3 linked regions of the Homo sapiens genome follow. The protein of the gene in region 2 interacts with the protein of the main gene of each other region in a pairwise test. Each region holds a gene or a part of one and is shown on either strand. Other genes may lie near its edges. The genes, in order: DCDC2, GNL3L and ROPN1.

The links.
Region 1: the proteins of GNL3L (region 2) and DCDC2 interact in binary tests that used the Homo sapiens proteins (3 or more experiments, as listed by UniProt).
Region 3: the proteins of GNL3L (region 2) and ROPN1 interact in binary tests that used the Homo sapiens proteins (3 or more experiments, as listed by UniProt).

What each region holds. Positions count from the first base shown.
Region 1 is NC_000006.12:24,283,057-24,293,092, forward strand, and holds part of DCDC2 (doublecortin domain-containing protein 2), read right to left. Parts: intron 8,023-10,036; coding exon 7,876-8,022; intron 5,851-7,875; coding exon 5,796-5,850; intron 1-5,795. UniProt on the Homo sapiens protein: Protein that plays a role in the inhibition of canonical Wnt signaling pathway. May be involved in neuronal migration during development of the cerebral neocortex. Involved in the control of ciliogenesis and ciliary length.
Region 2 is NC_000023.11:54,539,014-54,549,049, reverse strand, and holds part of GNL3L (guanine nucleotide-binding protein-like 3-like protein), read right to left. Parts: intron 10,011-10,036; coding exon 9,949-10,010; intron 8,916-9,948; coding exon 8,808-8,915; intron 7,778-8,807; coding exon 7,661-7,777; intron 6,096-7,660; coding exon 6,012-6,095; intron 5,844-6,011; coding exon 5,708-5,843; intron 4,828-5,707; coding exon 4,724-4,827; intron 822-4,723; coding exon 677-821; intron 1-676.
Region 3 is NC_000003.12:123,987,673-123,997,984, forward strand, and holds the start of ROPN1 (ropporin-1A), read right to left. Parts: upstream 4,453-10,312; 5' UTR 4,250-4,452; intron 3,687-4,249; exon of another isoform or gene 3,509-3,686; intron 1-3,508. UniProt on the Homo sapiens protein: Important for male fertility. With ROPN1L, involved in fibrous sheath integrity and sperm motility, plays a role in PKA-dependent signaling processes required for spermatozoa capacitation.

The sequences.
Region 1 (10,036 bases), on a different chromosome or scaffold from region 2:
AGGACAACAAAAGATCATTTAGTCGTTGGCTTTCACTTTCAAATACTTTCCTAATTTTTTCGTCTTTTCCGATAGAGGGTGCTATGATTCTACATGGTGTCACCTTGTCACTAGAAAACAGCCTTCTGCAGATGGGTTTATTCTTCAAGCTCAGCGAATTTAAGATAATTTATTTACATCTTCCTTTTGTTTTTAAGGCTAGAATCACAACTTAAAATTTTTCTCAACATGCTAATTTCTGTGACTCCCGCAGCACTGAGGCTATAAAAGGAATGACTTCTGGTCTGTCTTGCTTTGCACAAGGCATTCCCCAGGCTCCCTGACCAACTCAGTTACGCACCAGCAGGGGTCCCTGTGTACACTATGGCAGCTGCTTTCTCTCTTTCTCTCTCAAGCTCTACCAGTCCCTCATCCACACTCCCTTCTATATGCAAAAGAGCAATTCCTAGAAAGCCATGTAGGGAAAAATAAATTTCTAAAACTCTAGTTCTGTGTCCCCTTTGATTTGCATCATGAATTTAGGGTGCTTTCCCCATGGATTTTGCAGTGGTTCCTACAGCCAGAAGCTAAGCTCTCCCCACACAGTCCCCTTCACTCACACCCCTCCTCGCAGTGCCAGGCAGCTAATGATCTATAAAATGCATGCATTCTCCTGGGAACCAATTCATTAAAGGAAAGGAGTAAATTAATCCTGTTAAAAATCGAGCTTGTGACTTTGGATTTACTGGCATAGGAAGTTCTGTGTGGCTCAATGCCAAACATTCACACACTGCCTAAGCCGAGTTTGTGAGAACCTACCAGGCACTGGGCACTGTGCCAGGGGTTATTCTCCTCTACTCAAACGTGACCTCCTGAAAGAGGCCTTTCCAACCACCCAGCTGAAATAGCACCCTCTCTCACTTCCTCTTCCCATGTCTTCATGTATTTTTATTCATGTTTATCCCTGGTGTATATCACACGTATTGTGCATTTGTTTCTGGAATGTAACCTCCGTGCATTTAGTACTTCAGAATCTCTGGGCCCTGAAGCACCAGAACAGTCCCAGGACATCATATGAACTCAATAAATAGTTGTTGGATCAGCGAATCAGTCAATGACAATATACTCAAAGAAGAGTTATAATAGATGTCCGCCCCCACTGCGGCCACCTAGCGGACTCACCTATATCACATACCTGTACGTGTCCCACTGCCTCCTGCTTCTATTCTTGCCCCAAACCATTTCTCTAGAGATACCACAGCCAGAATGAGCACTTAAAAATGTAAAGCAGGCCAGGCGTGGTGGCTCACGCCTCTCATCCCAACACTTTGAGAGGCCGAGGCAGGTGGATCATGAGGTCAGGAGTTCAAGACCAGCCTTGCCAAGATGGTGAAACCCCGTCTCTACTAAAAAAAAAAATACAAAAATTAGCCAGGCATGGTGGCGGGCGCCTGTAATCCCAGCTACTCGGGAGGCTGAGGCAGGGAATTGCTTGAACCCGTGGGGCAGAGGTTGCAGTGAGCCGAGATCATGCCACTGCACTCCAGCCTGGGCAACAGAGTGAGACTCTGTCTCAAAAAAAAAAAAAAAAAAATTTTTTTTGAAGCAAATTATATCACTCCCTCCCTATAACCCTCAAATGGCACCCCATCAAGAAATAAAATCCAAACTCTTTGCATGCCTATATGATTGAGCCCTGCCTGCCTCTCCGATTTCATTCACGGCCTTCTTTCTGCCCTCCTCACATGCCAGGCTCTTTAGCAAGGGCCTGTGTGACTTTGTTTCCTCTGCCTTGGATGCTCTTCTTCCCCGGCCTCATCCCTGGCACAATTGGCTGTGTTAGATATCATTAAGGTCTCAGTTTCAGACAATTTTATATAAATCAATGCCCTGCTACATTTTATTTTCCCCATAGCATTTATCACCATTTGAAACTATTTGTACATTTGTTTACTAGTTGATCGTCTGTCTACTCCCATTCATCCCATCCATACCCTCCCCCCCACACACACATACATGCACACACACACACTAGAATGAAAGCACCATAAATCTAAGTCCTCATCTATCTACCACTATACGCTCAGTGCCTACAGTTCCTGGCACTTAGTAGGAGCTCAGTGAGTATGTTTGGAATGGATGACGGATGGAGTGGATGAATACAGGGTGCTACGGGAACACTGTGGAAAGAGGGACAAACTCTGCTATCATTTTATTTTTCTAAGTCATAGCATGGAACTACGTTTGACAACTTTGCTTTCTATGGGATGCAAATATACCTTATAACTGAGTCTTTGCTTAACGTCACTTCCTCCATGAGGCCTCCCCTGACACACCTATCTAAATGTGTTTTTCTTTTATTGTCTTTCATATTACTGTGCACTTTTCTTTCATTTTTATACTTCATAAGTATCCATTGATTAATGGAATCGCTTGTTTCACTTTTGTCTACTCAAGTAGACCACGAGTATCAGAGAGAGCATCAGATCTTTGCGCTCATTGCTGTATCCCTGGGGCTTACTACTGTGCCATACACCTGGAAAATTCAATCATCAGATGAATTGATGTGATGACATTGATGTATCACAGTATTCACAGCACAGTCTAAAAAACTTACAAATGAGCAAGAAATAAAAATTGCATGTGTGTACCTACACATGCATTTTAAAGCAGGAAATGCTCTACACATTTTTAATTAAAATTTTAGTTTTTCAAATTTCAGAATACTAAACATATCATTCCAAAGTTCAGTCACTGTGAATACAAAGAGTTGGGTCATGACTTTGGTCCTGACATCGACTTTCCCTGTGACTTGGGATCAATTTATTGATCAATTTATTCAATTACAATCGGTCTCTGTAATCATTCCTCTAGCTGCACTGTGAGAATTAATAAGCTAATATCTATACAGTACACAGAAGGGATTCTGCTACAAAGTCCTAAAGAAAAACAAAAAAAGCAAAATACAATTTCCAATCCCTAAATTCATGAGTTTTATTTAGCTTTATAGTTGCTCTGATATTGTTTTCACCTCCTGAAATATTCTTCTCACTCCTCTTTGACCCCGCACCTGTGAAGTTAGGTTGCCTCAAGCCTGGGCCCTCTGTAATTCTCACCGCACCATCTTCCTCTAGGAGCCCCTCATCCATTCTCTCACTTGGCAGCACCAGTGAGACCTGCTCTGTTCAAGCTGTGCTGGGTGATGAAGTACCACAGTGATGCTACGTCTGCTGTTCAACTAGGACCATTACATGGTTGTTCAAATCTACAACTCAGGCCAGGTGCGGTGGCTCACACATGTAATCCTAACACTTTGCGAGGCCAAGGCAGGCCGATCGCTGGAGCCCAGGACTTTGAGAACAGCCTGGGCAACAAGGTGAAACTCTGTCTCCACAAAAAACACAAAAATTAGCCAGGCATGGTGGCACATGCCTGGAGTCCCAGCTACTCAGGAGACTGAGGTGAGAGGATCGCTTGAGCCTGGGAGGTCAAGGCTACAGTAAACCATGATCATGCCACTGTACACCACCCTGGGTGACAGAGTGAGACCCTGTCTCAAAAAAAAAAAAAAAACCACCTGCAACTGCAGCTTCAGTCCTGATGTCCTTGGCAGGCCTCAGCTCTGCCATTTACAACTGCTTGCAGCACACTTTCAACTAAGTTTCCTGATGATACTTCCAACTCAACATGTTTGAAATTACGTAGGTCATTCTTTGCCCTGGCTGCCTTCTTCTTGGCCATAGAACTACCATTTTCTCAAATTCCAAGCTTAAAAACCTCAGTTATCTTTGGCCCCAATTTCTCCATTAACCCCTTGTATCCAATCATCACACAAATCCTTTGTTCCTTGGTTTCTTCCAGAATAATCATCACTTCCTGCTGCCTCTACCACCTCCCCAGTCTAGGCTCCTTTCCCCTCATACCAAGATAGTTGCAACTGCCTTACAACCATCGACTTATCTATGGCTTCTCACCACGTGAAGTCTTCCTCCATGTAAAAGATCTGATGCTCCCAAAATGGACTCAGATTAATATTCTCACCTCTCAGAAGCCCTTGTGGGCTGCCCTCTATTCAAGGACAAACACTAGACTCTTCATTCTGCTATTCAAGGTCATGTAATAACTGTCACCACCTACCATGTCAGGCACATCAGCCCCCACACCAAAAAGGACCATCTGTTCCAGTCAGCCTAAGGGACTCATTGTCCCGGGGCTCGGGAGCAGGAGCTCTGAGCTGGCTGTGTGGATGCAATTCCTCCCCTCCTCCCCTGCCATTTGCTCAGTAGGAGCCTTTGTTTGTATTGTATTGTATTTTATGTTATTTTGTTTCATTTTTTTGAGACAGGGTCTCACTCTGTTGCCCAGGCTGAAGTGCAGTGGGGCAATCTCTGCTCACTGCAACCTCTGCCTTCAATGGGAGCCTTTGAACCTGTCACTTCTACTCTGTGTACTTCCTTTTTTCATTCCTTTTTAAATGTAGATGACAAAGATGCCTGCCTTGTGGGGTGAGGTTAAATAAATCACTACTGTAAAGAGCTTGGCATAGTGTTGAGCCCACAAGGGCCCGGTAAATGTCAGCCAGCGTGACTGCTTCTTCGCATGCCCACGTCTGCCCCAACCATCTCACCCTCCCTTGGATCTGAAGGTCCTCTCCCCTCATCTACCTTTTTCTGAATTTTAAACAGTTTCAAAGGCAGAGCTCAAATTCAACTTCCTCTGTGGACTGCTGCCATTGTACATTCAGTCCTTCCCTCCCTCTCATGGTCACCAATCTCTAGATATTTGATGTTTAGCATTAGCTTGTTTGTTGCCTTTTTAAGCTATCTTCTTTATTTCAAGTAGATTGTAAGTTGCTTGAGGGCAAGAGCTCTATTGATTTTTATTTTATTTTTGTCATAATAGTATAAGAGTCTCAGCTAATGAGTTCTTAATATCTGTTATGCTGAGTTCGGCACTACTTATGTACACAAAATTATTTGTCTTTCTTTCAAGAATTTCACATGATATAACCAAAAAAAAGGAGGGATCTAAATCATTAGGAGACAATATCATTGCCTAGAAATCATTTACTTTACAAAATACCAAAATAAGAATGTTGCTTAATTAATTCAGGGTGTGGGTGGAAGATGTCAAATCAGTTCTGATCACAACTTGTCGGGCAATTCAACCAAAAGGGAAGAAAGAGAAGCCTCAGCCAGGAAGAACTGCCAAGGCAACGCTCTGGCATGACATGGAGCTCACCCCATCAGGGAGCGCAGACTGAAAACACAAGAAGGTTAGGAAATTACCTACTAAATGCTGTCGTTACTCCCACAGAGTAGGTATTTAATAAATGTTTGCTGAATTAACAAACCATGAATAAATGATAAATGGAAAAGATTCAGATGGCAAACTAAATACCTAGAACAATTCTCAATCTTTTCAAGGAATATTAATGAGGATTATACCCCTTTTCTCAGCGAAACTTCCCTTTTAGTCTTCGTTAAAGATAGAAACCAAGACTGGATGATCATTGATGTGACCTACTACAATGGTTCTTACAGTTTAAAGTATTATTGCCAAGATTTTAAGTGCAATATAAATTATGTCAGGTGTATATACAAGGAAAAAATTTTAAAATACATATTCTAAAAAATGTTAGCTCTGTTTAGGACCATAAGTGTAACATTAAAGTTCTAGTGCTGTTTCACATAATTGGTTATACACCACGAAGCGGCTAAGTTTTATCTCTTGGAACTTAATTGAAGCCCAAAGGACAGTCTCTTTGTATCATATAAAAATATAGAACATCAACGAGGAAAGCATCTGATACTTACACTCCCTTTAGACTTTCTGGATCCTACAATAGGAGGTAGTGAAGAAGCTTTCTGACTGTGGAAACAAATTGCAATTTAGAAATCTGAATGTTGTTTACAAATAATGTACAATGCAAGATAATTATCATCCCCACCTGGAAGTCAACTGTTTACTGCTGTGTTTCACAAAAGGTAGATAACATACACTTTAACACATACTTTCCCAATTTCACAAAGATCATAACATTTCCAAATTCCATCCCAAAAGATTTGTAATGTTTTCCTGTATAATATTTTAATCAATGCTTACAAGTAAACTTTTAGTATCACCTGAAATTTGTATAGCATTTTTATCCAGATCCCAAAGTGTCCTATTTGCATTTCAAAAAATCATTTCCAAATGTGAATAATGATTTTTCCAGACTGAGTTAAAAACAAATTTCCTTCGTTTCTATGATGTCTTCTATGTCTACCTCTGATAGGAGAGCAGAGGTAAAACACTGGCATTTGCATTCAGGTAGTTTTTAAACAAGTCGTCCTCACCAAAAAGTTAAAAATTATTTTAGGCTGTAAGAATAAGTTGTTTTGTTGATATCTGTATTATTAGGAAAAGACCCATCTTGAAACCCAACTGAATCTCTCCAAAAATAGAAGGACACATATATAAAAAAAATTCTTATTAATTGTATGAGAAAGGCCAACGTGAGTTACAGTTTTCTTATTACCATCAGGTACACACTGTTGATCACAGCAGGTTAACCTAGGGCTGCTTAGCAAAGATGGCTAAAGATTTGATTTCATGGATGGGTAAGGTTGGTTAGCGATAAGTCAGCTGGTAAATAATTCAAAGGTGCTAGAAAACCATGTGCTCTTGCATAGTTCAAACACCACCCCTGAAATTCCACTTCATCTATTACTTATTTAGAAGCTCTTGGCCAGCCTCTCCATCAAGTTACACAAATTGTGAATTAATTGCAAACACACTGGTGATATTCTGCTCTACTTCTGCGGACGACAACCAAAAAAAATTTTTTTTTGCAATGGCAAGGTGGCCACAGAATCTCTGGGAAAAGCAACAGAGATGGATCCCTGGGCACCATGAGCAAGCCGAGAGATCCTGCAGCATGGGCCAGAGCTCTTCTTTTTTTTTTTTTTTTTTTTTTTTTTTTTTTTTTTTTTTTGAGACGGAGTCTCGCTCTGTCGCCCAGGCTGGAGTGCAGTGGCGGGATCTCAGCTCACTGCAAGCTCCGCCTCCCGGGTTCACGCCATTCTCCTGCCTCAGCCTCCCAAGTAGCTGGGACTACAGGCGCCCGCCACTACGCCCGGCTAATTTTTTGTATTTTTAGTAGAGACGGGGTTTCACCGTTTTAGCCGGGATGGTCTCGATCTCCTGACCTCGTGATCCGCCCGCCTCGGCCTCCCAGAGTGCTGGGATTACAGGCGTGAGCCACCGCGCCCGGCCCAGAGCTCTTCTTGAGTGACTCCGCAGTGTATCTCCTAGGCTGAAATAAAGCATCTTTCACAAATATATGACATTTCATGGAGAAAAACTGTTTACGGTATATTGTAATTAAAAATATAATCCTTAAAATTTTACATGAATTAACTGTACACCCATCCTCTCTATTTGCATAAGTGGGATTATGTTGTTTTTATATTTTACAGTTATTATTAAAACAAGTATAAAATATTATGAGTTTTTTAACACTCTTGGATGTTTCTATCCAAACCAACTGAAAAGTTATTTGGTCTAGCAACTATTAAGACACAAAAACTTCTAATAATGTTTGCTGTAGAGAAGCTCATTGCCCTGTATCTTCTTCACAATAATAAATTTTTGCATTTACTTATAAATTTCATGCATGCTAAAAAAAAACCATGTAGTCTTTCATAACTTCCCAGAAATTATATTTTTGTTCAATAGCTTTCAGTCTCCCATCATGGCAATAAAAACAAAGATCAATGTATACCATATATGCTTTCCATTCTAAGTAATAAATAAGATTATCAATTACATAAAATATAATGGTGGTCAGCAAAAGACCCAATGCTATTTCAAGTGGTAACTAAAGCATGAGGAGTGGTAAGGAGTAAGACTTACCCAAAAGGCCTTCTCATCGTTGACTTGTCAAAAAGTAACTCACTGTAAGGCAGTTTCTTAAACTTATCTCTGCCAACAGCCACATAAAACTGCCCATTCTCCAACTCTGCTCCACTCTCAACAAGTTTTCCTTCTAAAGTATAAAGCCTGTCGAAAATATGAACACCAACAATTAGAATTTTAACCAACATTTAAAGAATTGCTTAAGATTACAAAGTATTCTGGATGTCAAAAAAATTAAAATTACATAGTAAATAAAAACATTCTGTACTTAATTTAGCTCATTTGTTACTATCCTCATTATTGCATTATAGATGCCTCAAAGTTATCAGATTCCACTAAATACTAATGTTATAATGCAGATACAATGACTATCTTGCTGTACAGGGTTTCACCCCAGTGAGTCTGATGATCTGGCATAAGGATCCCTATTGCTGCCATATTAAAATTTTAGAGGAGAAAAATTAACTTGTACAGATCACAGTGCTTTAAATAAAGCTCTGTTTCCATTGAACATTGATTCTTCTATTTATATTTTGTTAATACTTTTTTTTTTTTTTTTTTTTTTTTTTGAGACGGAGTCTCGCTCTGTCGCCCAGGCTGGAGTGCAGTGGCAGGATCTCGGCTCACTGCAAGCTCCGCCTCCCGGGTTCATGCCATTCTCCTGCCTCAGCCTCCCAAGTAGCTGGGACTACAGGCGCCCGCCACTACGCCCGGCTAATTTTTTGTATTTTTAGTAGAGACCGGGTTTCACCGTTTTAGCCGGGATGGTCTCGATCTCCTGACCTCGTGATCCGCCCGCCTCGGCCTCCCAAAGTGCTGGGATTACAGGCATGAGCCACCGCGCCCGGCCTTGTTAATACTTTTAAATTTTATTTTCTTAGCATATTCATCAGGCTGGCAAGCTTCTGACCACATTCTGTGTAAGAACAGCCCTCAACCAAAATATTACATACAAACACACAGAGAACCGGGTCAGGAACAATGGGGTGAGAGGGCAGGAGGTAAAAGAACCCATTGCCAGTGTTAATGATGCAGAACTGCATAGCATTTGTGCTTCTTTCTTTTTTTTTGCCGTCCCTACTAAGCAAAACAAGAGTGAACATTATATCTTCCCAGAATCGAGCAGTTTCACAGTAACCTTCCTTTACTGTAAAACTGCTGCTACGAGCTACAATTAATATGTTACTTATTAAAAGAACAGTCATAATTTTACCAGATGATTTTAAATGTCCACAAAAATTTTTTTAAAGAACAGGAAAATAAGTATTAGAAAACTAAACCAGAAAGACAGTGCATATTTTTTAAGGTTATAAGCAAGAGCTATTAATAAATGGAAGGATTTCAGTATCATCAAAAAGCTTTCTGTCTTCCTATATTACATAATAAGATTAAATGTCATTTACAGACGCAAAAAAAAAAACCCATTGACCTGTCAGCTTGTTTCCTGATGACATAAATGGCCATATCATACAGAACCATGAAATACAATGAAAATAGCCACCAATAGCCACCAACATTCCTGAAATGTATTTGTGTTTTTAGTTAGTATACAGATGGTAAAGTCTCTTTCTTTATAACATTGTACCTCTACTCCTAACAAGTCTAAATATCAACACTTAACCCAGAATTCTATGTTTTTTGCCTTAACTTAAGCTGGACATGGTGGCCTATGCCTATAGTTCCAGCTACTTGGAAGGCTAAGGCAAGAGGATCGCTTGAGCCCAGGAGTTCAAGACCAGCCTGGGCAACATAGTAAGACGCTATCTCAAAAAACACTTGACCAGGGTTTCTGAATACTGGCATTATTGACATTTTGGACCAGATAATTCTTTGCTGGAAAGGTGAGTAGGCTGCCCTGTACATTGTAAGATGTTTATTAGCAGCACCTTTGGCCTCCACCCACTAAACAGTAGCAGTAGCCACCCCATCCCCAGTTGGGACTACCAAAAATGGTTTCAGGCACTGCCAAATGTCCCCAAGGGGCAAAATCATACCTGCTTGAGAGCCAATGGCCTATATCCAAGCACTATTTTTCTACTTTTCTTCAAAATAGTTATATCTCAATCAGTAGTAATTTCATAGCTAGAAATTAAAAACCAGCATAGCTGTGGACTCTGGAAACAGCCAAGATTTGACTTGTTTCCTCTGCAGGTAAGTA
Region 2 (10,036 bases):
TGCATGTCTGTTTCTATGTCCCTTTTGGTGTTTCTGATTGTATCTCCCTCTTTACATGCCTCCATCATGTAAATCTGTCTCCTCTTTCCATTCCCCACCAATCCTGCCATCTGGCTTCCCAGTGCGTTCTCTGTGTCTTCTTCTGTATCTATCCTGGTATGCATACCTATACCTTCTCAGTGTCTAGCTCTCTCTCCAATGTCTTTCTCACGTGGCTTCACATTCTTTCTCTGGTGATCTATCTCTGCCTCTCTCAATTTCCCTACTCCATTCCCATCATCCCTCCCTCAGAAACTTGTGCTCCAGAAAGGCCCAGGTTTTGATCCTCAGCTCTGCCTTGTCTTGCACAGGGCTGGGCTCCAAAAGTCCCTTTGCCCTTCTCTGAGCCTCACTCAGAATTCTCATCCGTAAAAGGTAGACGGTCACCCCATCCTCCCATAGCTCTGATAGGATGAGATGGTACCAAGTCCAAGCCTGGCACCCTGTATTTGCTCCATGAATCTAATACTCAATACGCAGTGATGCCCACCCATCCAAGTTACAAATCACGAAACCCTTCTCCTGAACCACTCCTCTCTCCCCGCAAAAGACAATGAAGCTCCCAGGATCCTTTCCCCCAGCGAAGTGTCCGCTCAAGAAAGAAGCCTGAGCCCCATGACCACACAGCAGGTCTTACCCACAACACCCACACGAATGTGGGTGCGCACTTCACCAAGGCGGCAATAGTTCCCCAGAACCCTCATGAGGTTTTCAGCTCCAAAGCAGGCTTTGCTTTTCAGCAGTGACTCAGAGGCCTGATCTACTGGCACACTGCAACGATTCTGGAAAAAAAAATTGAATATCACAGAAGAGACATCAGGTGGCAGATGAGGTCTGAGCCCAGATTTCCAACTTTCAGGGCCTCCCTATGATCACTGAGCTCCTCAGCCTGAAACGGAAGGCTTCTCACACAGATCTTGAACACGTGTCATTTCCCCATTCCCCTCCACTGTCTTTGTGTCTCCAGTCTCCTCTGCCCCTGCGTCTGCTTCGACACATGTCACTTGCCTCCCTCGGCAGTGGCAGGATGGCATCCTGGCTCTAAATAGGCCAGGTTTGAGCTCCAGGTCTACTTCTCACAGGCCTATGTCCAGCAAAGCCTGCTTCCCTTCTCCAGGCCTCAGTGCCCTGTGTGCACAACAGGGATGCCCACCCTCCCTGCCTGCGCAGGGATGAGAGGGAGCCTGGCCCACAGCCTACCCTCCCTCAATTCCTCACACAGGACAAAGCCATCCCAACCTTTACTCCTGATGCCACTTCCTCTGCCCAGAATTCCCTCCCTCCTCTTCCCTTACTTTTTTTCTTTGAGACAGAGTCTTACTCTGTCACCCAGGCAGGAGTGTGGTGGCACAACCTTGGCTCACTGCAACTTCCACCTCCTGGGTTCAAACGATTCTCATGCCTCAACATCCCAAGTAGCTGGGACTACAGGCATGCACCACCACACCCGGCTAACTTTTGTATTTTTAGTAAAGACAGAGTTTCGCCATGTTGGTCAGGCTGGTCTCAAACTCCTGGCATCAAGCAATCTGCCCACCTTGGCCTCCCAAAGTGCTGGGATTACGGGCATGAGCCACCACGCCCAGCCACAGCATTGTTTCCAATATCACAAAATTGGAATTAGCCTATATATCCATCAATAAGAAACAGGTTAAAAAGCTGTAGCCTTAAAGTGGAATACAAATGAAATACAGCTGTTAGAAAAGGTGGCTTCTGGCCGGGTGCTGTGGCTCATTCCTGTAATCCAGCACTTTGGGAGGCCAAGGCAGGCGGATCACTTGAGGTCACGAGTTTAAGACCAGCCTGGCCAACGTGGCAAAACCACGTCTCTACTAAAAATACAAAAATTAGCTGGGTGTGGTGGCACGCACCTGTAATCCCAGCTACTCGGGAGGCTGGGGCAGAAGAATCACTTGAACCCGGGAGGCAGAGGTTGCAGTGACCCAAGATTGCACCAGTGCACCCCAGCCTGGGAGATAGAGTGAGACGTCATCTCAAAAAAAAAAAAAAGAAAAAAAAAAGAAAGAAAAGGCGGCTTCTATTTTTGCCATCAAAAAGGCCAAGAAGCTGGGCACGGTGGCTCAAACCTGTAATCCCAGTACTTTGGGAAGCTAAAGCAGGTGGATCACTTGAGGTCAGGAGTTCAAGACCAGCCTGACCAACATGGTGAAACCCTGTCTCTACTAAAAATACAAAATTAGCCAGACGTGGTAGCACATGCCTGTCATCCCAGCTACTCGGGAGGCTGAGGGAGGAGAATCACTTGAACCCAGGAGGCAGAAGTTGCAGTGAGCCGAGATCGTGCCATCCCACTCCGGCCTGGGCAACAAGAGTGAAACTCCATCTCAACAAAAATTTAAATTTAAATTTTAAAAAGGCCAAGAAAATGTAAATAAGGTATCATGTTTCTGAAAGGTTTAAAAGTTTAATGCTATCAAATGTTGCCAAGGGTGTAGGAAAAGAGGCCTCTCACACATTCATCTACCCCACTGGTGGGAGTATAAATTGGTACAGCCATCACGGAGGGTGATTCATCAGTGTCTAGGTAAAGGTAAAATGCAGAAAGGCTATGACCCAGCCACTCCCTTTCTCTACCTCACCTACAAACACACACTTGCCCATGTGCCAAGGAGACATGTACAAGGGTATTTGTGGAAGCCCAGGTTATAACGATAAAAAACTGGAAACTAATTGTATTCAGCCTCGAAAAGGCACATCTCTATAGAAAGATGTCCAAGAGAAAAAAAAAACTAAGCCACAGAATGATATACATAATACTTCCAAACAGTATTCCCTCTTTATATATACACTTCTATGTATATCCAAAGCACAGAATAACATTTGGAAGAAGGCCGAGTGCAGTGGCTTACGCCTGTAATCTCCGCACTTTGGAAGGCTGAGATGGGAGGGTCACTTGAGGCCAGGAGTTCAAGACCAGCCTGGGCACCAAAGCAAGACCCTCCCCCCATCTCTACAAAAATAAAAAAGATAAAAATTAGCCTGGCATGGTGGCATGCACTTATAGTCCAAGGTACTCAGGAGGCTGAGGCAGGAGGATGGCTTGAGCCCAGCAGTTTGAGGCTGCAATGAGCTATCATCACGCCACTGCACTGAGGCCTGGATGACCAATTGAGACCCTAAATATCTGTATCTAAAATAAATAAAGTCTGGAAGAATGCACACCAAACTGTCAATGGTAGTTACCTCTGGGCATGAATAAAGGAGACTAGAATTAGGGAGACTGGTGAAAGGGTATTTAAGCTTTATCTGTAGTTAATTTTATTTTTTCTACTTTATTTTTAAATAAGTTTAACATCCAATGCAAAATTGAAAAAAAATGTCCCTTAGTATCCAATTTTTCTCCCAGAAACAATCAGTTTCTGTATTAATATTTTACAAACCATACATATTTCTCTATTAATGATATAATTGGGAAGAACTGTGATTTGTTTCAAAGAGAAAAATGATTGGAGGTATACGTATTTTTTAAAGTTAACAAGTAGTTGGTTGTGCACAGTGGCTCACAGCTATAATCCTAGCATTTTGGGAAGCCAAGGCTGGTAGATCACCTGAGGTCAGGAGTTCGAGACCAGCCTGGCCAACATGGTGAAACCCTATCTCTACTAAAAAAAAAAAACACAAAACTTAGCCACAATCCTGGCTACTCTAGAGGCTGAGGCACAAGAATCACTTGAACCCAGGAAGCAGAGATTGCAGTGAGCCGAGATGGTGCCACTGCACTCTAGCCTGGGTGACAAAGTGAGACTCTGTCTCAAAAAATAAAAAATAAAGTTAGACCGGGAGTGGTGGCTCACGCCTGTAATCCCAGCACTTTGGGAGGCCAAGGCGGGTGGATCACCCGAGGTCAGGAGCTTGAGACCAGCCCGGCCAACACGGCGAAACCCCGTGTCTACTAAAAATACAAAAATTAGCCAGGCATGGTGGCACATGCCTGTAGTCCCAGCTACTTGGGAGGCTGAGGCAGGAGAATTGCTTGAACTTGGTGGGCAGCGGTTGCAGTAAGCCAAGATCATGCCATTGCACTCCAGCCTGGGCAACAGAGTGAGACTCTGTCTCAAATAAATAAATAAACAAACAAACAAGTAGTTAACTGTATTTTACAAATTCCCTATAGACATTATGTTTTATCCTTACAACTGAAAAAAAAGAAATGCTTCCTGAAGAGTGATAATACAGGAAGAAGTCAAGTGAAACTAATATTAAGAAGTCACTGGCCAGGCATGTTGGCTTATGCCTATAATCCCAGCACATTGGGAGGCCGAGGTGGGTGGATCACCTGAAGTCAGGAGTTCGAGACCAGCCTGGTCAACATGGCAAAACCCATCTCTACTAAAAATAAAAAAATTACAAAAATTAGCAGGGCATGGTGACGCGTGCATGTAATCCCAGCTACTTTGGAGGCTGAGGCAGGAGAATCATTTGAACCCAGGAGGTGGAGGTTGCAGTAAGCCGAGATCACACCATTGCATTCCAACCTGGGCAATAAGAGTGAAACTCCATCTCAAAAAAAAAAAAAAAAGTCACTCGGTGGAGCAAAAAGCTCAAAGTTGAAGGCCCAGTTCAATTACTAAAGGGCTGGAGGTCCCAGTCCAAGTCACGACCCTCCCAGCTCTGGCCCCAAACTACCCTGAAAGCGGCTAGATGACCCTAGCCCCAGGCTTACCAGGTTTTTGACCTGATGCTGGGTACTGGCCTTGAAAGCCACGGTTGGCAACTCATTCCGAAGGTAATCCAGCCATTTCTCCACAACCTCCTTGGGGACCAGGTCTGGGGTAAATATAGGAACAGATGGGGCTGGTAAGCAGAACAACACCTCCATGGTTCCCTCCAAAGACACCTCCACCCGTACCCAAAGCTAGGCCCACCTACCATCAACAGGTCTCTCAACTGGCCCTGTCATTCCCATCCAGTCCGCAGGTTGGAGTTAGAAAGGATAGTCTGGTCTACGGGATGCGTTAGCCCTCCCTGAAGGGGCCTCTGTTCCCTCAGGGAAAATGGACAAACTAGCTATCTGGTCCCAAATGTTCTCTTTCCAAAACAGCGCCAGGAGCATCAGAGACCCCCCAAATATTGTGTTTCCTATCCCCTCTCTGGATCATTCTAGGTTGGGCCAAATGACAAAGATAACCCTAAAAAGAATGGCTATCATGTGTGAAGTACTGACCACCATGTACCAAGCATTTTATCATTAATTCTTACAACAAATCTGTGAGGTTGGGATACCCATGGCCCATTTTACAGCTAGAGAAACAGGAGCTCTTGGAGGTGGCATGACTTATCCAGTGTCTCAGAGAAAAGAATCAGGACAGGTGGGAGGCTGAACCCTAGACATGAGTGACTCCTGAGCCCATGTGCTCCTCTGCCCCAGTCTTTGAGTTGAGGGAGGAGGAACTCTCCAGGGTTGTCCAAAAACAGAGAAGGCTCAAAATGGCAAGAACAGGGGACTGAAAGGCAGACAGGCTTGGATTCCACACCTAACTTGTACCATACTCTGTGATACAGGCTTTGAAAATCGGAACAAAAATTTCTACTTTGCATGACTATTATGAGTATCACTGAGTTGCTGGGTTCAGTGTCTGGTCCAAGCTAGACGTTAAAGATGGCCTGCCCACCTTCCCTGTCACACCCAATCCTGCCTAACACCCACCAATCTTGTTCAAGACCAGGACCAGCTTCTTGTTGCCTTGTGCTCGCAGGACAGCCTCCTCCATTTGGAAGCAGCGGCAGCCTAATGGGTCTCTGGCATCCAGGACTTCCAGAATCACATCAGAGTATTCCACCACCTGCAGGGCAGAGGACCAGGAGATGAGGGCAGGAAAAGGATAGGGTAGCAGTGATGCAGGCCTGTGAAACAAAAATCTCCATCTCAGTCAGGAAAAAACAGAAATGGAGAGGAAAAGGGGCTGGACTGGAACCCTCCCGCAAAAGCCTGAAGAAATGGAACCCTGTACCTTACGGAACTCCTTGTAATAAGCCTTCCTCGTGGCCTCGTCATCCAGCTGAGGAAACATATTTAATTCCTGCAAAACTTCCTCCTAAAGGAGAAAAAAAAAGAGAATGGTCCAGGGGAGGAGGGGGAGAGAGCGAGAAAGAGAAGCAGGGCTTTTTAAACTATAGGAGGCTTAAAAAATCATGTGAGTCCTGGCCATCAGAGAAATGCAAATCAAAACCACAATGAAATACCATCTCAAACCAGTTAGAATGGCGATCATTAAAAAGTCAGGAAACAACAGGTGCTGGAGAGGATGTGAAGAAATAGGAACACTTTTACACTGTTGGTGGGACTGGAAACTAGTTCAACCATTGTGGAAGACAGTGTGGCGATTCCTCAAGGATCTAGAACTAGAAATATCATTTGACCCAGCCACCCCATTACTGGGTATATACCCAAAGGATTATAAATCATGTTACTATAAAGACACATGCACACGTATGTTTATTGCGGCACTATTCACAATAGCAAAGACTTGGAACCAACCCAAATGTCCAACAATGATAGACTGGATTAAGAAAATGTGGCACATATACACAATGGAATACTATGCAGCCATAAAAAATGATGAGTTCATGTCCTTTGTAGGGACATGGATGAAGCTGGAAACCATCATTCTCAGCAAACTATTTCAAGGACAAAAAAACCAAACACCCCATGTTCTCACTCATAGGTGGGAATTGAACAATGAGAACACTTGGACACAGGAAGGGGAACATCACACACCGGGGACTGTTGTAGGGTGGGGGGAGGGCGGAGGGATAGCATTAGGAGATATACCTAATGTAAATGACAAGTTAATGGGTGCAGCACACCAACATGGCACATGGATACATATGTAACAAACCTGCACGTTGTGCACGTGTACCCTAGAACTTAAAGTAAAATAATAATTTAAAAAATAAATCATGTGAGTCTCAGGCCACCAAAAAGTAGCTTTGACCAACCAATAAAGCTGGGAACTGGAAGAAAAATGGACAGAACCCCATGGTTCATGTGTGCGCCTATGTGTATACGTGTGCTCGAGCACCAGGTGGAGACCTGAGTGTGCACATGGGTGTGAAAGGGAGGGATGGAGGAGGGAGGTGTGAAAAAAACAATCTATGAGGGACACAGGATGGGGGAGGCATACACACTGCATATCAGAAAAGGGAGTATGAGCTGGCAAGCGTGTATTCTGTGTGTGAAACAAGAACATCTGCCAAAAAGGCAGCAAGAAGCCCTAGAAGGAAGACAACATCCCCTCACATATGCTCCTCTCTGTCTCTCAATCCTCTCCTCATACTTTCGCTCCCTCTCCCCCAACCCCATCCCCTGGTCACATGTAACTCTCCCAGCCCCCAACTCCGCCACCAGCCCCAGTCTTCAGGCTCAACCTTGGGAGAGAGGAGCTCTCCAGAGGTGTCCAGTCACGGGTAAGGCTCAAAATGGCCCTTTATCTCCCTTTATCCCTCCCTCCCTCCCTTCGTCCGTCCCCATGGTTTTCTATCCTCTCTACACTGATTCCCTTGTTCCCCTCCAACAACTTCACACCTTCTTCCCTTTCACAGAAAAACGGCAAAAGATGCTTTGAGCAAACCTACCCAGGGGCAAGGGCTGCACTCTTACCTTATGCTCAAACTCCTCCTGGCGTCTTAGGACATCCTGACAGTAGCTCTCAATGGTCCTGCGTTTTTGTCTTTCTTGCTCCCGGGCGGCTTGCTGCTTCTCCCTCATCTCCTCAACCTAACAAGTGAACACACACTGGTACTGGAGCTGACTGGGTCTGCAGCCTAAGGGAGGGATGGGTGACAGACAGAGGAAATGGTGCGACATGGCAGAGGTGGCAGGAGCAGGGTCCAGGGAGAGGGAAGATATGACATCAGGAGATGAGGGTTTGAGAAGAAGAAAAAGAGAGATGAAGGGAAGGAAAGAGTTGCAGAGAAAAGAGGGTATAAAAAGCAGAGAGAGAATGTATCCTAGGCAGGCGGAACCACTTAAGACCAGAGATGGAAAGAAGCCAAGGTCCTGGGATGCTTCATCATTTAAAGATAAGGAAGAAGGCTGGGCAGGGTGGCTCACGCCTGTAATCTCAACACTTTGGGAGGCCAAGGCAGGTGGATCACCTGAGGTCAGGAGTTCAAGACCAGCCTGACCAACATGGTGAAACTCCATCTCTACTAAAAATACAAAATTAGCTGGGCGTGGTGGTGCATGCCTGTAATCCCAGCTACTCAGGAGGCTGAGGCAGGAGAATCGCTTGAACCCGGGAGGTAGAGGTTGCAGTGAATCGAGATCACACCACTGCACTCCAGCCGGGACAACAAGGTGAAATTCCATCTCAAAAAAAAAGATAAGAAAGGGGAAAAAGTGGCAAAAGAGACTGTCAGTGGCTAGTCAAAGAAGAAAGACATCCAGGAGAGTGAGATGACAAGAAAGTCCACATGCTTCAAAGAAAGCATAGCCTCAAATGCTGAGCATTCCAATAAGATGAGGGAAGAATACTATTCATGAATGTGATGTCAGGGAAGGCGCTGATGAGGCCAGCAGGGGCAGTGTCAGCAGAGCAGTGGAAGCATAAGCCAGACAGCAATGGACTGGGTGGTGAACAAACGCAGACATAAATCCAGTATCATGGTAACCTCCCTCTCTCCCGGCTTCCACAAATAGCCTCAACAACCCTAACAACTCTTGCCTTTGCCCTTCCATTCAACACTTCTGCGGACCTGGCATTCAAGGCAGGCCCTCTCTCTCCCCACCAAGGCAAAAAGCTTACCCACTTCTTCTTTAATTCAGCCTCTCGATTGGCATGATCATTGGGGTGAACAAAATGAGGTGCAGAGGGCACTTTGGAGGTTGCTTTCTTCCCATTTTGCTTTGCAGGCTGGCCACCACATAAGAGAAAAAAAACAGAGGTAATGAACCCATGGAAATCACCTCAAAAAGGCAGCAAGAAGCCCTAGAAGGAAGACAACATCCCCTCATAAATGCCCCTTCTATCTCTCAATCCTCTCATCCTCTCATCCCCTCACTCCCAAGGTGAGCAGCAGGAGTTAAAGCTTCTCAGATAAGTGTAGTTGTGGGGACAAAGAAAGGAGAGAAGCAAAAAGGGCTCCATCCCCAAAGATCTGCCCATCTGGCTGGGTAGAGGTCCTCTCTCCTATAGCTAGGCAGGGACTGACAGGAGACCTCTCAGAGGGGAAGGGCAGCTGGGAAGGTTTCCCAAGGCCCAGGGAAAACCTTTCTAGATAAGTGACTCTCAAAAGAGTGGTCCTCAGACCAGCAGTAGCAGCAGCACCTGGGAACTTGCTAGAAATACAAATCATGGGATGCCATGCCAGACCTACTGAATCAGAAACTCTGAGGTGGGGCCCAGCAATCGATGTTTTCCCCCATCCTCCAGGTGATTCTAGAGGACTGGTTAAAGTTTGAGAGCTTCACCCATGCTAAATTGTGAGAACCCAAGCCTTCTCTGGCCTATACCTTCTTCTCATTGCTCTTTCCCAAGCCTTACTTACCCACACCTTTCCCAGCAGGACCAGGAGATCCAGGAACCAAAGATGATGTTTTGGCCTCCCTCTTCTCCATAAGAAACAGGGACTTGAGAATCAGACAGTCTCAAATCCCAGTTGCGTTACCTTGAACCTAGGAACTTTCTCACTGACAGTTTCCTCAACTAAAACATGGGGATAATGATAATCCCTACCAAGGTAAATCAAGCACGAAGCTGCATATGACTTGGGAAAAATGCTGCTGATTCTCTGCTGCGGCCACCCAGAGAAGGAGGGAAAGCCAGATCCACTGACTCCAATGTGGCACTCTGTCCAGAGTCACCCAATATTTACTGGGTTTAGTGGGCCTCTCCCAGGACAAGCAACCTGTTCTTGACCTTACCCTCAACAACAGGCATACCTTACCTGAGGGTAGGGCCAACTTATCTTCTTGTGGCCCTTGGAACCTTCACCTGGCTTTTTATTTTCTACAAAAGAAAAAAAAGAAAGAAAA
Region 3 (10,312 bases), on a different chromosome or scaffold from region 2:
ACAAACCCATGGCCAAGTCAACACAGCATTTGGATGCCAACAGCAATATTGCTAAGAGCAGTCCTACTTGACCTTGTCCTTTTTTTGAGTAGTAGTTTTTGGCTTTATTAGCAAATTTCCCAAACTTGCTTATATATCATGCTAGTATTACCTCTTGAAAGCATGAGTTCTACATGTTTATTATTTAACAAATGAATAGGTACCTCTTTTGGTTTATCTAAGCCATGCTCATATTTCAAAGATTTCCCTCGTGTTCATTCGCATCATCATCCACAATTCTAGGGACACATGGCTCATTTACAGACTGGCATGTAAACTATGTCCTGTAAAGTTGTGCAACATGGTTCCCTGATTTGGGGACCTGGTGTACACACTTGGGTCACCTTAGCCCTGTCTTATATAAGAGTATGAAAGTCTTTATTAAGAGTAAGTGTCATAATACCCCACACCATTTTCATCTTTTACTTGTCCTTCCTACATTTTTTTTTTTTTAGATGGAGTCTTGCTCTGTCACCCAGGCTGGAATGCAGTGGCATGAGCTTGGCTCACTGCAACTTCCACCTCTTGGGTTCAAGCAATTCTCCTGCCTCAACCTCCTGAATAGCTGGGACTACAGGTGTGTGCTGCCATACCTGGCTAATTTTTGTATTTTTAGTAGAGACGGGTTTTCACCATGTTGGTCAGGCTGACAATCAGGTCAGAAGGACAATCAGAAGTTGTCCTTCCTACTTCTGATTTCATTATAGCATTCCTGTGAGTCAGAGATTTAAAACCTACAAGCAAGGGCTCTGAGGGGGTGAATGCACTATAGTTTCCAATATAAGATTAGGGCTATGTTTCTCTTCAGTTTCCATTACCATTCCTGATGATATTCAGCATTGCACTGGCCTTTTCCAAAGCAAAACATAGGGCTGCTATCCTTCGTAGCTAGTTGTGGCATAACATCTAGAGGGCAGATGAAGCTGTAGTGAAGAAGCACTCTTGACTGTGAGGCAGGAGTCCAGGATTTTGGCCCTGGGTCTATTTATGACTAATTATGTGATCCTTAGGAAATCATTAATCTGACAAAATTTATGTGTTTTATTGGAATTGTGCTGAATACTGGGATACATGAATAAATAAGTCACACACTCTGCTTCATGGAGCTCACAGTCCAGTGGAAGAGAGTGACAGGAAAATCAGTGACTCAAAGAAGGTATAATAAGTGTCAAGAAGCCTGCACTAGATATAGAAGAACAGAAGAAAAACAGAAGAAAAACTCTTGGATGAGGCATCTAACATCTGCAGGTATTAGAAGGAGGTCAGAAAATACTTTTCAAAGAGTGGTGATATCTGAGATATCTGAACTGAGACTTGGAAAAACCTGGTTTGTTCATTGCTGTACTGCAAGCCCTCAGAAGACAGCCGGGTACAGGGCAGGTATTCAGTAAGCATATGTGTACTTATGAGAGTAAGGAGAGAATTTCATGTAGGTAGAAGGACTTAGGCAAAGATGTGGGGTTGTCAGAAACGTGACAAGTTCAGGGAACTGTAATTATGGAGCTCTAAAGTGGACAAAGCAGGAGTGGTTGGGCCTAAGGCTGGAAATATAGCTCAAGGCTTGGGCTTTTGAACTTTTTGTTGAAGGCAATGGGGAACCACTAGAAAATTTAAGCACAAGAGTCACACAATCAGTGTTAGCTTTAGGTCCGGTTATCAATATTTGCCTCTCAGCTCCAAATTCACCTTGTATTGCCTCCTCCACAAAAATTGAACTAGGTCCTTTAACATTTTTTCCCTTGTCAGCTGTCATAAGGATATGCTTTGTTAGGACAGGGCACTGGAAGGACTGGAGGAGGAAGAGGTTTCTCTTAGGAATTTAGGTATGCTCTTCTTGCTAGGCTCCAGGAACTTGTAGTTTCTCCTATGCTGGGATCCTGTAGCACACAGCTTTTCTAGCATCTGTTTCATGCAGTGTGTGATCTTTTGAGTGCCCAACTGCTGGAGTACACAGTGGCTATCAGTGCTCCATGGCTAGCAGTGTCCCCTGGCACCTCTCTTGGGAAGCTCTATAGCAGAGTGCTGTCAGTGAGTTACCTTTTAGTGAATGGCTTCTCTGGTGTTTCAGAGAGTAAATTTTGCCTGCCTGGCACCTCAGCAATTTCTCTGCTCTCCAGTCAGCTGTGGCCATCCCCTATGCACCAAGCTCTGGGAAAGGTTTCTTCCTTGGGTGATCTATCTCAGGGGTAGTGGTTGCCCCTTATATCTGTGATTCCTGTATATTTTAGATCTCTCCTGACATATTAGCCAATCCTTCATTACTCCAATCCCATCATTAACAATTCTTTATATTGAACTTCTCTTGTTAAATTATATGCTCAAAAAATTACTATATGATTTATTTCTCTTTGTTGGACTCTGAAACACGTTGACTGACAGCTGTGTGGATGAGCTGAAGAGAGGATGGTGAAGCTTCAGGCAGGGAGCCAGGTTAGGAGAATATGGCAGCACTTTTGACAACTCCCAGGAGCTTCACTGCCTTGAAAAGTAGTTGCAATAGGGAGTGATATAAGAGACAAGTATTTAGGAGATAGGATCTACAGGATTTGGTAACTACTGAAGGAGGAGGAGGAGGAAGAAAAGAGGAGGTGGAGGAGGAGGAAGAAGAGAAGGTGGAGAAGGAGGAAGAGGTGAAGGACAGAAAAGTCTAGAGTGACTATCAGTTTTCAAGCTTGGATGACTGGGTGCACAGTGGTGGTACCCTTGTAGAAATAGAAAACACTAAAGGAGGGTCAGGTCAAATTATCCCCCCATGTTCCCATTTACTTTCAGGAGTTCCATGCACTTTTGAATCACAGAGTTGAAATCATAGACTCTCTGAGTTGAAGAGGCACCAAAGCCCAGCTTTCCTGCCTTTGGGCAATAAGGGTCATTTGTTCACATCAAAGAAGTGGGAGAAAGGTCCATTCTATCTTAACATTCCTCAATTCTAACATTTTGTAAAGTTATTTTCCATTTTTAAATCTCTTGATAGTGTAGGTCTTCTTCAATTATACATTCCAGAGCTTATCCATAACCCCAACTCTTTCAATTCAATGCATTTCCTCCTAAGTGAAACCTACATGCCTCTCAATGTAAAATGGAGGCCAACATATACCTGCCAAGTGCTGAAGAATGTAGGTCTTAAAATAGACTATAGCCTTGTTTCAGGGATCTCTCACTTGGTTTTATTGGTATGGGCTAAACAGGGCTTCCGTTTCATAAATGAAAGTCTCCAGTAACATGAATGAAAGGCTCCAGGGCAGAATCTCAGAGGGTTTCTATGAGTATCACTTGGAACCAAGCACAGGCAACTGCACATCCCTGTTTGGGTTTGGAATTGGAGATGGTGGGTTTGGGATGTGGTTACTCTTGTTTGGAATACATTCTCCTCCTCTTAACAGGTTGATTCTTCCTTTGGAGGTCTGCTTAACCTTCCCTGATTACCCTGTCAGTTCCATTGTACATACCCTTCCAGAGCATCACTTACCTATCCTTAGTGTGATTCTTTGAGTAACATGTGTCTCCCCCAGCAAACTCCACGGCAGGACTGGTCAGTTTTTGCTCACCACACCATCCCAGTGCCTAGCCCAGTGCCTGGAACTTAGTGTTCAATAGGTACTAGTAAAAATGAATGCGTGATAGCAGTCTATGAAGTGCTAGCTATAAAATGAACACGTGATAGGAGTCTATGAAGTGCTAGGTATAAAATAATGCGTGATAGGAGTCTATGAAGTGCTAGGTATAAAATAATATGTGATAGGAGTCTATGAAGTGCCAGGTATAAAATAATGCCTGACAGGAGTCTATGAAGTGCTAGGTATAAAATAATGTGTGATAGGAGTCTATGAAGTGCTAGGTATGCCCATGACATCCACATGACAATTCACCCAGAGGTATTTTTATATCCCTGTCGCTGATGAAAAAGCAGAGGTGTGGCTCCTCGGTGGAGGGCTCTGATTCCAAACTCTTGAGCCTCCCAACCACTGTCCTCCGGGTAAGAAACCGTATAATAGTATTCTGGGTACAAAATACGCACACAAATTGGCCAGAAAGCCATAATCCCCCACAGTCACATTCTCTTGAAGATCCCCTTGCCTTCCCCTTGCCCTGTGAACAAGGAGAGGCTCAGAATCCAGGGGGCGTCCGGCAGGGCTCCTCCCTCAGACCAGCGCAGCCCTCGGGGCGCTCAGAGCCCTGCCCTCCCTCCACTTCCCCTCGGGGTGGCTACCTCAGGCTCGCTCCCAAACCGGCTGTCTGGCTTCAGGCGACACCTGGCGCCTGGCCTCAGGCGAGAGGTGTGGGGAGAGACCGAGTGCCTCCCACCCTTCTTAAGAAGGAGAGCAGTAGAACCTCGGCGGGGAGGGCAGCAGCGGCCGGGGGTGACAGCAGCGGCGGGGCACGACCGCCGTTAGCGTTAGACGTTAGCGCTCCGCCTTCGCCTGGCAAACCCTGCGCGGGCTCCGCTGCCAGGTCACCAGGGGTAGCGCCGGGCGCGACGTCACAGAGCCGCCCCGCCTCTCCTGCAGCGGCGGGTTCCCAGGGTCCCGCTAGGGCGCTGCTAGGGGACGCTGAAAGCTGTTTTGGGCTTTGCTGGTGGTGGAAGGACCAGACGGCCTGGAGGGTTAAGGACTGGGCTGGGGACGTTAGGAAACCCGGGCTGGGGGCGTTGGGGGTGGGGCGGAATGTGTAGCCATTGACGGTGCGCTTTTGTAGGTGAGAGGGCAGAAGTGGAGCTTGATCTTTCGGCTTGTGGAAAGTGGACAGGTGAGAATTCCTCAGGAATCATAGTAACAACACTTCTTACAATGAGTTTTTGGTGCCAGGAATTGTTCTAAGTGCATTACACACATGAACTCATTTCATCCTTACTGTCACCCCATGAGGCAAGTACTATTGTTATCCCCATTTTTACAGATGAGGGAACTGAGCACAGAGAGGTTAAACTTGTCCAAGATGACAGTCAGCAAGTGACAGAGTCAGGATCTGAATCTGGGTTGCGTGGTCCCAGATTCCTCACTCTTGACCTTATAATGCTAAGAAAGGGGCATGGAGTGGATAGGAACAGAGCCTGAGATGCCTGGGGACAACAGGGAAAGATAGAAAATATTTATAGGGTAGAATGTGGTCACTGTGCCAGGGCACTTTTACAAACATGATGACATCAAAGTTTCACAGTAAACTCTGAAGGTAGGTATTACCTTCGCTTTGGAAATAAAAAACAGGCTCAAGGCTTCGAGTAATTTTGCCTGTGATCGAACAGCTGGCAGTAGGGCTCAGGGCCCAACTTTACTCCAGGTCTTCCGGTTTCAAGACTGTGTGTGTGTGTGTGTGTGTGTGTGTGTGTGTGTGTGTGTGTGTGTGTGTGTTTTGAGACAGGGTCTTGCTCTGTTGCCCAGGCTGGAGTGCAATGGGGTAATCATGACTCACTGCAGCCTCAATCTCCTAGGTCTAAGCAATCCTCCCACCTCAGCCTCCCAAGTAGCTGAGACTGCAGGTGCTTGCCACGATGACAGGCTAATTTTTATATTTTTATAAACGGGGTTTTGCCATGTTGCCCAGGCTGGTCTTGAATCCCTGGGCTCAAGTGATCCACCTGCCTTGGTCTCCCAAAGTATTGGGATTACAGGTTTGAGCTACCGCACCTGGTCTCAAGACTGTTCGTTTTAAGCACCCAAGGAGGCAAGAAAAGCCCCATCTTTCTCTGCTACATCCCGTGTCACTTCACACCTATTTTAAAGGGGCCCATTGCATCATCTAATCCTTCATTCCATTTATACAACAGTGTGTATTAGTCTAAATAGATTAGTTCACCCAGGCCCTTCAAAGCTTTCTCTGTTTGTGAGATGAAAGCCTTTGTCTCTCCCTAAAGCAATTTTAAGCATCAGTGAACAAGTGGGGGAACTAGATTTTTGGGTTACGCATGCAGAAAGCTTTTCACAGCCTGTTGTCATCCATTTGTAAAGAGGCCACTCTGCTGGCATTTGTCAAAATCCTGTAGGTCCTTGCACACCTGGAGAATCCTGGATGGTCTGGGGATGGCCACTGCCCACAGGGCAAGATCTGGGGATGAAAGAAACCTAGTCACTAGCTATCACCTGCCTTTCTGAGGCCTCTGTGGAGGGGCTGCCAGGTGTTGGTATAGGCACTTGACAAACAGGGTGTGCCTTAGGTTGGGAGGGGGAGGCTGGAGGCTTGAGGGCTGCAGGTGCATCTTCCAGGATAACAAGAATGCTCTGGCCACTGGGGTCTGTTCTGTTGTATGCACATGGGATAAAGGTGTGCCAATCTCTTCCTGCTTTCATGCAGAGTAAATAATGCTGACAGGAGTGAATAATAATGATCTTTGTGCAGAAGAAGGGGTTTTTCAGACAAAGCACTAGCAGCTAGAGATGGGAGATGAAACAGAATAGAATTTTAGTGTAGCAAGTTAAACACAAGGGAGGAATTTCATGGGACTGTCTGACTGAGGCGATTTGATGTCTGTCTGTAGGAGGCCAGGTTGAGAGGCCTAGGTTAGATTATCCTTGATCTGTTAGTCAATAAATATAACAGGATACAGTCAAGAGAATACAATTTTACAGGAAAATGATAATAACATAATTCAGGAAAGTTGCTTTCTTCTAAAACAGAGGTAAGAGTAGAGAGGGAGGAGCACATAGATGTTACTGGTAGTGGTCTAGTTTTGGGGTGGGTGATGGGTTCATGGGTGTTTATTATGTTTCAGTAAAAAATCTGTCTTAAATATTACAATAAAATCTTTTATTACATACAATCTTTTATCAAGTAGGTTACACTGTTTTCTGCTATTTTCTTGTACGAACGAATATTGACTATATCCTTTCTCATCATTTCCCTTTTTCTACTAGATAATTCCCATCAACATAAAAACATGCCTTCATCATTTTCCTCTTCAGCTTTGACCATTTTCTCTGCTTCCCTTTATTGCCAAGCTCTTTAAAAGAGTTGCCTATACCTGCCACCTCTAATTTCCCTCTTCCAAATCTCTTTTTAATATACTTGAACCAGGCTTTCATCCCCACCACTCTACTGAAATGACTTGTGTTAAAGTCCCCAATGACATGCTGTTAAATCCAAAATCATCTCTCAGCCTCGGCTCAACCTATCAGCAGCCTTTGACCCTGTTGATCACTTTCACATGCTTGAAACATTTTCTTTCCTTGGATTCCAGGACATTAGACTCTTGGTTTTTCTCCTTCCTCATTGGCTGTTCTTTCTCAGTCTCTTTTGCTTGTTCTTCCTCCTCTCCCTGGCACTTTAATCTTGGAGTGCCCTAGGATTTACACTTGGACTTCTCTATCTACATGCACTCTCTTTTTTATCTCATCCAGTTTCATGTTTTGGATACTACATTTATGTCTTCAGCCCTAATCCTTCCCTAAATACCACATTAGAACATCCAACTGTTTACTCTGCACCACTGGATGTCTATTAGGCTTCTCAGGCTTAATACACCCCAACTGCACTCTAAGATTCCTCTCCAAACCAGTTCCTCCAGGCTTCCTCATAGAGGCTAAAAACCTTGGCATTATCCTTGGCTGCTTTTTCTCTCACACCTTAAATCCAATCAGAGCAAATGCTATTGGCTGTATCTCCAAAAGTCATTCAGAATTGGAGCACTTCTCTCCACTTCCATCACCTTGGTCCAAGCAAACTTCATCTCTTACCCGGACCACTACAATGGCTTCCTAACCTGTCTCCCTGTTTCCGCCCTTCCCTTCCAGGGGTCTGTTCTCATCACAGCTGCAGGATCGAATTACTGAAAACCTAAGACTGATCATGTCATTCCTCTGTTTAGAACCCTCAGTGGCTCCCACCTTATGCAAGTAAAAGTCAAAATAACCCACAGGCCCTTAAACTCTCTGAACCCATCATTTTCTCTTTTCTCCTTCATCACTTCCCTCCAGCCATGCTGGCCATCTTATTATCCCTCAGAAAGGCCAGACCCTCTCCTGCCTCAAGACTTGTGCACTTGCATTTCATCTGCCTGGAACATGATTTCCTCAGGTATCCACAGGGTTCATTCCTTAGCACCTTCGGTTTTGTATCCAAATGTGACCTTCTAAGGGAGTCTTATCTGACTCTTTTAAGTTGAACACCAATATCCCTTCCAACTCCTCCCTTGCTTTATAATCATTACATACTATGTATTTTTAAATTTTTGTTTTATTGATTTCTCTATATTTTTTCACTGGAGTGCATGCGATTCTGTTTGTTTTAGTCACCGCTGTATTTCGAGAGCCTCGAACAGAACTGTGCACATAATGGGTACCATAAATATTTGTTTACTGAATTAAATTCTCCTTTTTTTTCTCTCCTTCCACCTTGTTTCCCCTTCCTTCCTTAAGAGGGCCTTCTGAAAAATGATACTTTAGTGTCCATTCAGCTTTGCATGTTCAGTATCTTAGGGACTAAAGTTCTATCTGGCCAAGTAACCATAGGTCTGGCACCAGAGAGTGGGAATCCTGACGGTCTTCTTACCATCTCAGCCTTATAATAAATATCAACTGTCTCATACTATCTCTGAGCTCAGAGAGTCAGTTCTCCCTATCCTATGTGGCTTATATTGTGGGTCACTTTCCCCAGATCTTAAATGTGCCATTTCATAGGAGGAAACGAGAGTGACCCTGTCCCACCTGCTGCTTGGATCATGGTGAGGCTGGGGCTGAGCAGTGATGATGGGTACACCATACTCAGGTTCAGCACAATTCTGTGATTTAGCTGTGGGGTGTGGTTGTTAGACTCCCCGTGGAGCCAGTCAACCCTGTGTACATAAACTCCTTTCACATATACATTTGTTTTCTTTTGCTGCATTGCAAATTACCACATACTTAGCAGCTTAAAACAACACAGATTTCTGATCTCAGTTTCCACAGGGCAGGAGTCTGAGTGGGTTAGCTGGGTCCTCCGCTAAGGGTCTTGCCCAGCTAAAATCCAAGTGTTGGCTAGGGCTGTGCTCTCATATGAGCCTTAGGGTCCTCTTCCATATTCATTGGTTGTTGACAAAATTCAGTTCCTTGGGGATGTAGGACTGAAGTCCCTATTTTCTTGCTGGATTTTGGTCAGGGATTGTTCTCAACTCATAGAAGCCACTTTCACGTCGTAGTTCCATGGCCCTGGAATGGCAGTTTACGACACTGATGTTTGCTTTCTTCCAGGCCAGCAGAGGCACCTGTTGTTGTTTCTTTTGTCTGTTTTTTAAGGCTTACTGGATTAGGTCAGATCCACCCAGGATAACCTCCCTTTTGACTAACTCAAAGTCAACTGATTAGGGACCTTAATTACATCTGAAAGTTCTCTTTTGCCACAGAATATTAATCACAGGAATGAAATCTCCTCATATTCATAGGTCTCACCCAGACTTACAGCGATGATGAGATTATACAGGGCATGTACACCAGGGGGTGGAAATGTTGGAGGCCATCTTAGAATCCTGCCTACCACAATATGCCTCTTTATGAAAGAAACTGATGGGAAGGTCCGTTACCTCTCTTCAGAGTTGAAACCATTGAGACGACAAGCACAGCTACTCATTGTGGTTCTGGATCCCCTCCTCTTCCTGCTACCTCTGTGTGTAGTCTTTTTCTAGAACCTAGGAGAGCAACACCTCCTATAACCACTCAATTATGAGAAACAAACCACAAAATTCCACATAAATGAAAATGTCTACCTAATCAAAGTCTACTTCTTTAAGGATTTGAGTGATTGGGGTGGGGGGAAAGGAGAATATTTGTCACTGGGAGGCAGGGTGAGTTGTGTGGACACGGTTCCTTCCTTCTTGACACCTGTGTCTTCTGTGGCTGCCCTGATTCTACTTAGGACTCCCCTAGGCTGTATGGCATCTTCACATACATTAGAAAAAGGTGGTCGCTCAGGGGCAGACATACCCCCTTGGGCATATGGCCTGACAAGTAGGGTAGGAGCTGAACTTCAGCCCACTCTCACCCCTCAGAAAACTGCCTGGTTTTCCTGCCTCCAGAGCCTTCTATTTCTGTTCCACATTATTCATCTTCTAAATATGCACAACACTCCCTTGCTCCCCACCATCACACACACACACACAAAAAAAAAAAAAAATAGAGAGAGAAAAGAAAAGAAAACCTCCTCAGTCCTTGGTTTTCTCTCTGTCTTCCCTTCATGAGAATTCCTATCCTCCTAAGGATAGAAGTTTTCCAGCTAGCTGTCTGCGTGGATGACTCAAATCTACACCTAAAGTCTCAACCTCCCTGCTCAACTCAGTCCCTTGTCCAAATGTCCTGGACCTCATTCAAAC